Linked DNA regions of Homo sapiens. Changing the gene in region 1 together with any one later gene gives a genetic interaction. Each region holds a gene or a part of one and is shown in the gene's direction. Other genes may lie near its edges. The genes, in order: ING5 and CDC7.

Region 1 (3,820 bases):
AAGTTTGGTAGTACTTTTTGGCCGTTTGATATTTAACTCCGTTTCTTTTTTTTTGAGACGGAGTCTTGCTTTGTCGCCCAGTCCGGAGTGCAGTGACGTGATCTCAGCTCACTGCAAGCTCTGCCTCCTGGGTTCACACCATTCTCTTGCCTCAGCCTCCTGAGTAGCTGGGACTACAGGTGCCCGCCACCACGCCTGGCTAATTTTTTTTTTGTATTTTTAGTAGAGACGGGGTTTCACCGTGTTAGCCAGGATGGTCTTGATCTCCTCACCTCATGATCTGCCCGCCTCAGCCTCCCAAAGTGCTGGGATTACAAGCGTGAGCCACCTCGCCTGGCCCTAACTCTGTTTTTTTCTTTTTTTTTTTTTTTTTTTTTGAGACAGAGTCTCACTCTGTTGCCCAGGCTAGAGTGCAGTGGCACGATCTTGGCTCACTGCAACCTCCACCTCCCGGGTTCAAGTGATTCTCCTGCCTCAGCCTCCCGAGTAGCTGGGACTACAGTCACATGCCACCACACCCAGCTAATTTTTTGTATTTTTAGTAGAGACAGGGTTTCACCATGTTCACCATGTTAGCCAGGATGGTCTTGATCTACTGACCTCATGATCCGCCTGCCTAGGCCTCCCAAAGTGCTGGGATTACAGGCATGAGCCACCGCGCCCGGCCCTTAAACTCCCTGTTTCTAAACAACATGTTTTTGTTGCTGTTTCTTATTTTATCTCTCGTCAGTTTTAGACGTTGTTCAGACGTATATGGCACAGGCAGCTGTACTTCTCCAGTGGCCCCCACACCCTCACATGCCCTCACCTGGCTCCCCCATCTCCTGGCTGTAGGTTGTTAGAATTTGTGGTGAGACCAGTGATGGGACTTCCATTGGGCAGCTGTGTAGGTACTTTAACACTGAGCCATGCCACCTGCTGTGCTTATATGACCTCTTTGGAATAACTTTGTGTATTTCTTAGAGTTACTCATGGCCCTGTTTGTTGGCTTTGTTTTCTGCATTCGACCCTTGTCTCCCCAGCTGGGCTTTTCCTTGTGGTCTGTCAGGCTGTCTACCCTGACAGTTCTGTGTGTGCTTTCTTTCCGCAGAGCCCTCTGTCCTGGAGGCCACAGTCCTGATTGTTTCCATGCCAACTGCACACTTGTTGCCCTGAGGTTTTCCTGGGATCTCCTTTCACCCCTCTTCAGTGTGGGACCCTCTTCCCTGAATCTTAAATGTCTTCTTTTTGCCCTTGCTCTCCTGTTTTGATAGAGCCTTTCCTTTGGTAGGTTCCTGAAAAAAAGGCACATAGGAAGGTAGATTTTCTTGGCCAGGCACGGTGGCTCATGCCTGTAATCCCAGCACTTTGGGAGGCTGAGGTGGGCAGATCACCTGAGGTCAGGAGTTCGAGACCAGCCTGATCGACATGGAGAAACCCCGTCTCTACTAAAAATACAAAATTAGCCGGGTGTGGTGGCGCACGCCTATAATCCCAGCTAATTGGGAGGCTGAGGCAGGAGAATCACTTGAACCTGGAGGCGGAGGTTGCACCTGGAGATCGCACCATTGCACTCCACCCTGGGCAACAAGAGCGAAACTCCATCTCAAAAAAAAAAAAAAAAAAGAAAAAAAGGAAGGTAGATTTTCTTGTAACATTGCATGTCTGAAAATGTGTTTGTTCTAGCCTCATACTCAGCTGATAGTTTGGTTGGGTATAGAATCCTAGGTTGACAATTGTTTTCACTCAGGAAGTTGGCGACATTGCTGCCTTGTCTCCTAGCTTCCACGTTGCTGCAGAAAATCTGGTGCCGTTTGGATTCTTGGTCCTTTATATGTGTGATCTATTTTTTTTTTGTTATTCCTATTCAGAAGCTTTTGAGATGTTTCCTTTATCTCTGAAGTTTTAAATTTCATGATAATGTGTTTTGGTGTGGCAATTTTTTTTTTTTTTTTTTTTGAGATGGAGTTTCACTCTTGTTGCCCAGGCTGGCGTGCGATGGCGCGATCTTGGCTCAACACAACCTCTGCCTCCCAGGTTCAAGTGATTCTCCTGCCTCAGCCTCCCGAGTAGCTGGGATTACAGGCATGCACCATCATGCCCAGCTAATTTTGTATTTTTAATAGAGATGGGGTTTCTCCATGTTGATCAGGTTGGTCTCAAACTCTCAACCTCAGGTGATCTGCCCGCCTTGGCCTCCCAAAGTGCTGGTATTACAGGTGTGAGCCACTGTGCCTGGCCTGAGATTTTTTATTCATTATGCTGGGCACAGGTTTGTTTTTTTTGTTTTGAGATGGAGTTTCGCTCTTGTTGTCCAGGCTGGAGTGCAATGGCACGATCTCAGCTCACCGCAACCTCCGCCTCCCGGGTTCAAGCAATTCTCCTGCCTCAGCCTCCCGAGTAGCTGGGATTACAGGCATGCGCCACCACACCCTGCTAATTTTTTGTATTTTAAGTAGAGACGGGGTTTCTCCATGTTGGTCAGGCTGGTCTTGAACTCCTGACCTCAGGTTCATCCACCCGCCTTGGCCTCCCAAAGTGCTGGGATTACAGACGTGAGTACCACACCCGGCCTGGGCACATGTTTTGCAAGACTGAGATAGCTGTGTTTTTTTCCTTAGGTACAGCATCTTGACTAGGGAATACAGAGAGTTATTTTATTGTGAAATGTAACATATATTCAGGAAATGAATGTGCAACAATTATAGATTGCTTAACAAATATTACCAGGTGAACCTCTCTGTTGTCTGCTACCGAGATGGAGAAATCAAGCCCTTTGGCACCTGAAGGCCTTTGTGACCCTCCTAGTCATGACACCCCTCCCCAACCAAGGGGTGACCATCCTGAGTTTGGTGACAGTCACCTTCCACCTTTAACAGTAGTTTTCTTTTTTTTTTCTGAGACGGAGTCTCGCTTTACCATCAGGCTGGAGTGCAGTGGCACGGTCTCGGCTCACTGCAACCTCTGCCTCCTGGGTGCAAGTGATTCTCCTGCCTCAGCCTCCTGAGTAGCTGGGACCATAGGCACGTAACACCATGCCCAGCTAATTGTTGTATTTTTAGAAGAGACGGGGTTTCACCACATTGGCCAGGATGGTTTCCATCTCTTAACCTCGTGATCCTCCTGCCTTGGCCTCCCAAAGTGCTGGGATCACAGGCGTGAGCCGCCGTGCATGGCCTTCAACAGTTTTCTTTTGTTTTTTTTTTTTGAGATGGAGTCTCACTCTTTCGCCCAGGCCGGACTGCAGTGGCGCTATCTTGGCTTTCTTCAAGCCCCGCCTCCTGGGTTCACGCCATTCTCCTGCCTCAGCCTCCCGAGTAGCTGGGACTATAGGCACCCGCCACCACGCCCGGCTAATTTTTTGTATTTTTAGTAGAGACGGGGTTTCATCAAGTTAGCCAGGATGGTCTCGATCTCCTGACCTCGTGATCTGCCCGCCTCGGCCTCCAAAAGTGCTGGGATTACAGGCGTGAGCCACCACGCCTGGCCTAGTTTTCTTACCCCTCTAAACTGAAGGGTTAAGAGTTGTGTCTGTTTCTGCTCTTCATATTAATGGAATCATCCAGTATGTTTTCTTTTGTTTCTTGCTCTTTTTGCTCCGTGTCACCTTCTCTGGGAATCATCCGTGTTGCTGTGTGTGGCTGTAGTTTGCTCTTTTTGTTGCTGAGTAGCACTCTGTTGTCTGAAGGGACCACAGCTTATTTCTCCATTTTACTGAGGATTGGACATTGGGGTTGTTTTCTGTTTTCTGCTCTTATGAATGTTTCCCGTGTGGATTTCTTTAGGTGACATAAGGTTTGTTTAGGGTATTTAAGAGTAGTGTGTTCTTTCTTGACTGCTC
Region 2 (3,820 bases), on another chromosome or scaffold:
CCCTGCAGTGAAAGTAAGTAATGTAGCTTAATAGCATAATGGTCAGTCAGTCATACACTGAAGAGAATTTAGGTAATAACTAGATTAACATTTATTATCAGAAATTTTTTTAAACTAGAGTTTGGCTTTGGCAGAAGGTATTACTGCTTTAAGCATTTAGTCAAAACTTGTTTTCTCCAGTTTTTTTCTGAACTTTTCTGGTGGAATTTTTTCTCATTTTTGGTTAGCTATTACTGTCTTTCTCTAGAGGAACATTTAGAACATTAAGGGCTTTCTGTCATTGCTAGAGTGTGAGCTCCATACAGTTAGCTAACTATTCTGACACATAGTTGATAGTGTAAAGATGTTTGTAAAGTTAACAAAATCATCATCAATGTAGATGATTTCAGATTGACTTATGATATCTTGTGACAGCTAGACAGCATGAGCAACAAATTAAAACTGTGATTTTAGCCAACGTACTTGTGCAGTTTACAGTTCTGAAATGGAGTTAGACACTAGAACATAACTGTTTTATACTTCTGTAATATATCAGGAAAAGTTCTAATAAAGTATAACTCAAATATTGGCCAAGCTAGGACTAATTAGTAAATTTTAATATAAGGTGACTTTACAGAAAAACCCAAGAAGACCTTAAACATTTTAATAGACAACAGTTTATTTACAGTCCAATAGCCATTCAGCAGTTTTTAAAGTTATGCTTCCGCTATTGCTTTTTGCCATACTAGCATTTTAGGACATCATGTTTAATATCATGAAAATAGAAAAATGAGACTTTTCTTTTACAGCTCATGAAGCAGTCAAAGACTGTGGATGTACTGTCTAGAAAGTTAGCAACAAAAAAGAAGGCTATTTCTACAAAAGTTATGAATAGTGCTGTGATGAGGAAAACTGCCAGTTCTTGCCCAGCTAGCCTGACCTGTGACTGCTATGCAACAGATAAAGTTTGTAGTATTTGCCTTTCAAGGTAATGTGTTTTGATGGTGTTATAAAATCACCAGCATGCTGCCATTAGAAATTGCATTGACTTGGGTGGATAATTTTGTGAGTGCAAGGGATCAGTTCAGATCAGTGAACTGCAATGGGCCTTGATGCAGAGCAGTAGTATGTTGAAGAGCAAATGATAACAGTTTTCATATATTATTTATTTAATATGGATATACTCTGGAAAACACATTTGCTCTTATATGCAAATAAGTGGGACGGGGTGGCTTTTAGAAGCTTAGAATCACACATTTTGATTGCTGATGTAGTCTTTTCTGTTTTCTCTTTTTATTCCCGCTTATGTGGAGTAACCAGAACCAAATAGTAGAGCTCCTCTTTTACTCCCACCTCCAACTCTTTGACTCATAAATTTCTTCCTTTCCTTCAAGGCTTGGCTTTCATAAAGCCTTTCTTGATTAACTCAAATATATAAGTGTATCTGTGATCAATTACTCCAAACAAATGAATTTTTATACCTGTGAATTGCTATTGGGTTCTATTTTTTCTATTATGGCTCTTATTATCCACTACTGCTTTTTATTCTTGGAGGTTATTTTAAACCTTTCTGGAGTAAGTCCGGGGAACTAGTAGAGGGGGTAAAAAACAGAAGAAGAAAAATCTAGGATTTTTATCACACTAGATTATCATTTACTTTATAGTAACACTTATTATATAGGTATCAAGGCAAAATTTACTGTGAACTAAATTGATGAATGTTATTTTTTAGACTTACATAGTTCAACTTTAACATAACTAGAGAAATCTTATTTCATCATAAGGCGTCAGCAGGTTGCCCCTAGGGCAGGTACACCAGGATTCAGAGCACCAGAGGTCTTGACAAAGTGCCCCAATCAAACTACAGGTATGTTGTACTGGAAATACAGAACCTAGTTAAAATGGATTGTTCCAGACGTATTTTATTTTATGATCTTTGTCTATTTATAACTAATATTTGAGTTCTTCTGCTTTTAATTATGTAAGCAGTTCTTGCAGTGTGGCATTCCTATTTTTGAGCTAATGCTATTCTTTATGAAAGTTTTTAATCCTAATGTTGCCTCTCTTTTTTTGTTTAAACAGTTTATTCCATAGATTACATTTTGCGTATTTATTTACAAGATGATCTTACCATCTTGTAAATAAATACGCAAAATGTAATCTGTGGAATTTTGCTGACATCACCTTTGTGGGGGAAAAAATTATGTTTAATAGTTTTTGCCAGCCAAAGACTTAAAGCATTTTATTTGCTTGCTTAATACCTCAAAAGTTTCCTGTGATGTAGATATATTTGTGTTTGATTAAAATTACTTTTGTTATTATATAAACAATATAATAGCAGTTAGAAGGTTTTGAAAAAGAAAAATGTCTTCCGTAATCTAAAAACTTACCATGGAGCTGGAATCCAGGAAACATCTTGAATGAATAGATGAATCCTGCTATTCACTTGGATTATGGGCTTTGAAGAAATGTATTCATTCATTGAATGTCTGTTCTTGCTTGCTAATGATAACAAATAAATAAATGAGACCATCTGTTCACACTCTAGTCAGGACACCATCAAATAATTATAAAATAACCTGTTGAGTATGGTAATAAAACTTATTCAGGGTATTTAAGGAGTATCTAACTATCCTAACCCAAAGAGATTATGAAAGGCAATTCATGAAAGAAATGACCTCTTAGAATGTAAATTGGGCTGAGAAGTTAGCATAGAGGCATGAGCCAAGGAACTCAAGAAACAGCATACAGGAAACTAAAAAAGTTTCATTTTGGCCAGACGCGGTGGCTCATGCCTGTAATCCCAGCACTTTCGGAGGCTGAGATGGGCGGATCACCTGAGATCAGGAGTTTGAAACCAGCCTGACCAACATGGTGAAACCCCATCTCTACTAAAAATACAAAAATCAGCTGGGTGTGGTGGTGCGCACCTGTAATCCCAGCTACTCAGGAGGCTGAGGCAAGAGAATCACTTGAACGCAGGAGGCGGAAGTTGCAGTGAGCCAAGATCGCACCATTGCCCTCCAACCTGGGCGACAGCAAGACTTCATCTCAAAAAAAAAAGTCCAATTTTGCTAGAATATTAAGATGCAAGTTGAGGAATGGTGAGAGATAAACCTGGAATGAGGTAGACAAGGTCAGACCACAGTTGTTACAGTTTGGACTATATACTGTAGATATTGGAAAGTTAAGTGAAAAAAGTGACAATGGTATATCCTAGATGGATCATTCTGGCAGGCGTGCAAACAGATTAGCTTTTGGAGAGTGGTGGCATGAATTTGTCCGGGTGAGAGGATGAAAATGTGAATGAGGGTATTGGTAATAGGAATGAAAAGAAAAGTGAAGGGTTAGAAAGGCAGAGCTTGGTGGATAATTGGATGTAGAATTAGGGTGTGGTATGGTGAGGGAAAAAGGCATTCAGGATGTTTACCAGATTCCTAGCTTGGGAGACTTGGATGTGTACCAGTAACCAAGGTGGAGAGTAAAGGAGAAGTAACTGGTTTATAGGGGAAGGTAAGGTTAGTTTGGGGTATAATTGGTTTGAGGTATTTGTGGGACATCCAAATAGAGATTTCCAGCAGAATCAAAGTTAAGTCTGATGCTCAGCGAAGGAGCTGGGCTAGAAATACAGATGAATGTCATCATTATATAAATGACAGTTGAAGCCATGAAGTGGATGGACCAATCAGGGAGAGTATACAGAGGGAGAAGTTAAAACTCTGAGGAATATCCGTCAGCACTTAAGGCTTGGAGAAAACATTGAAGGAGCAGGCAGAGGTACCAAAGGAGCTAAGAAAGGCAAGTAGGGCCGGGCACAGTGGCTCATGCCTATAATACCAGC

Evidence for each region.
Region 2: changes in ING5 (region 1) and CDC7 are lethal when combined (synthetic lethality), as found in Homo sapiens cells (one large-scale study listed by BioGRID).

Annotation. Positions count from the first base shown.
Region 1 is NC_000002.12:241,705,039-241,708,858, forward strand, and holds part of ING5 (inhibitor of growth protein 5), read left to right. Parts: intron 1-3,820. UniProt on the Homo sapiens protein: Component of the HBO1 complex, which specifically mediates acetylation of histone H3 at 'Lys-14' (H3K14ac) and, to a lower extent, acetylation of histone H4. Component of the MOZ/MORF complex which has a histone H3 acetyltransferase activity.
Region 2 is NC_000001.11:91,514,031-91,517,850, forward strand, and holds part of CDC7 (cell division cycle 7-related protein kinase), read left to right. Parts: coding exon 1-13; intron 14-788; coding exon 789-967; intron 968-1,711; coding exon of another isoform or gene 1,712-1,721; exon of another isoform or gene 1,722-1,763; coding exon 1,764-1,846; intron 1,847-3,820. UniProt on the Homo sapiens protein: Kinase involved in initiation of DNA replication. Phosphorylates critical substrates that regulate the G1/S phase transition and initiation of DNA replication, such as MCM proteins and CLASPIN.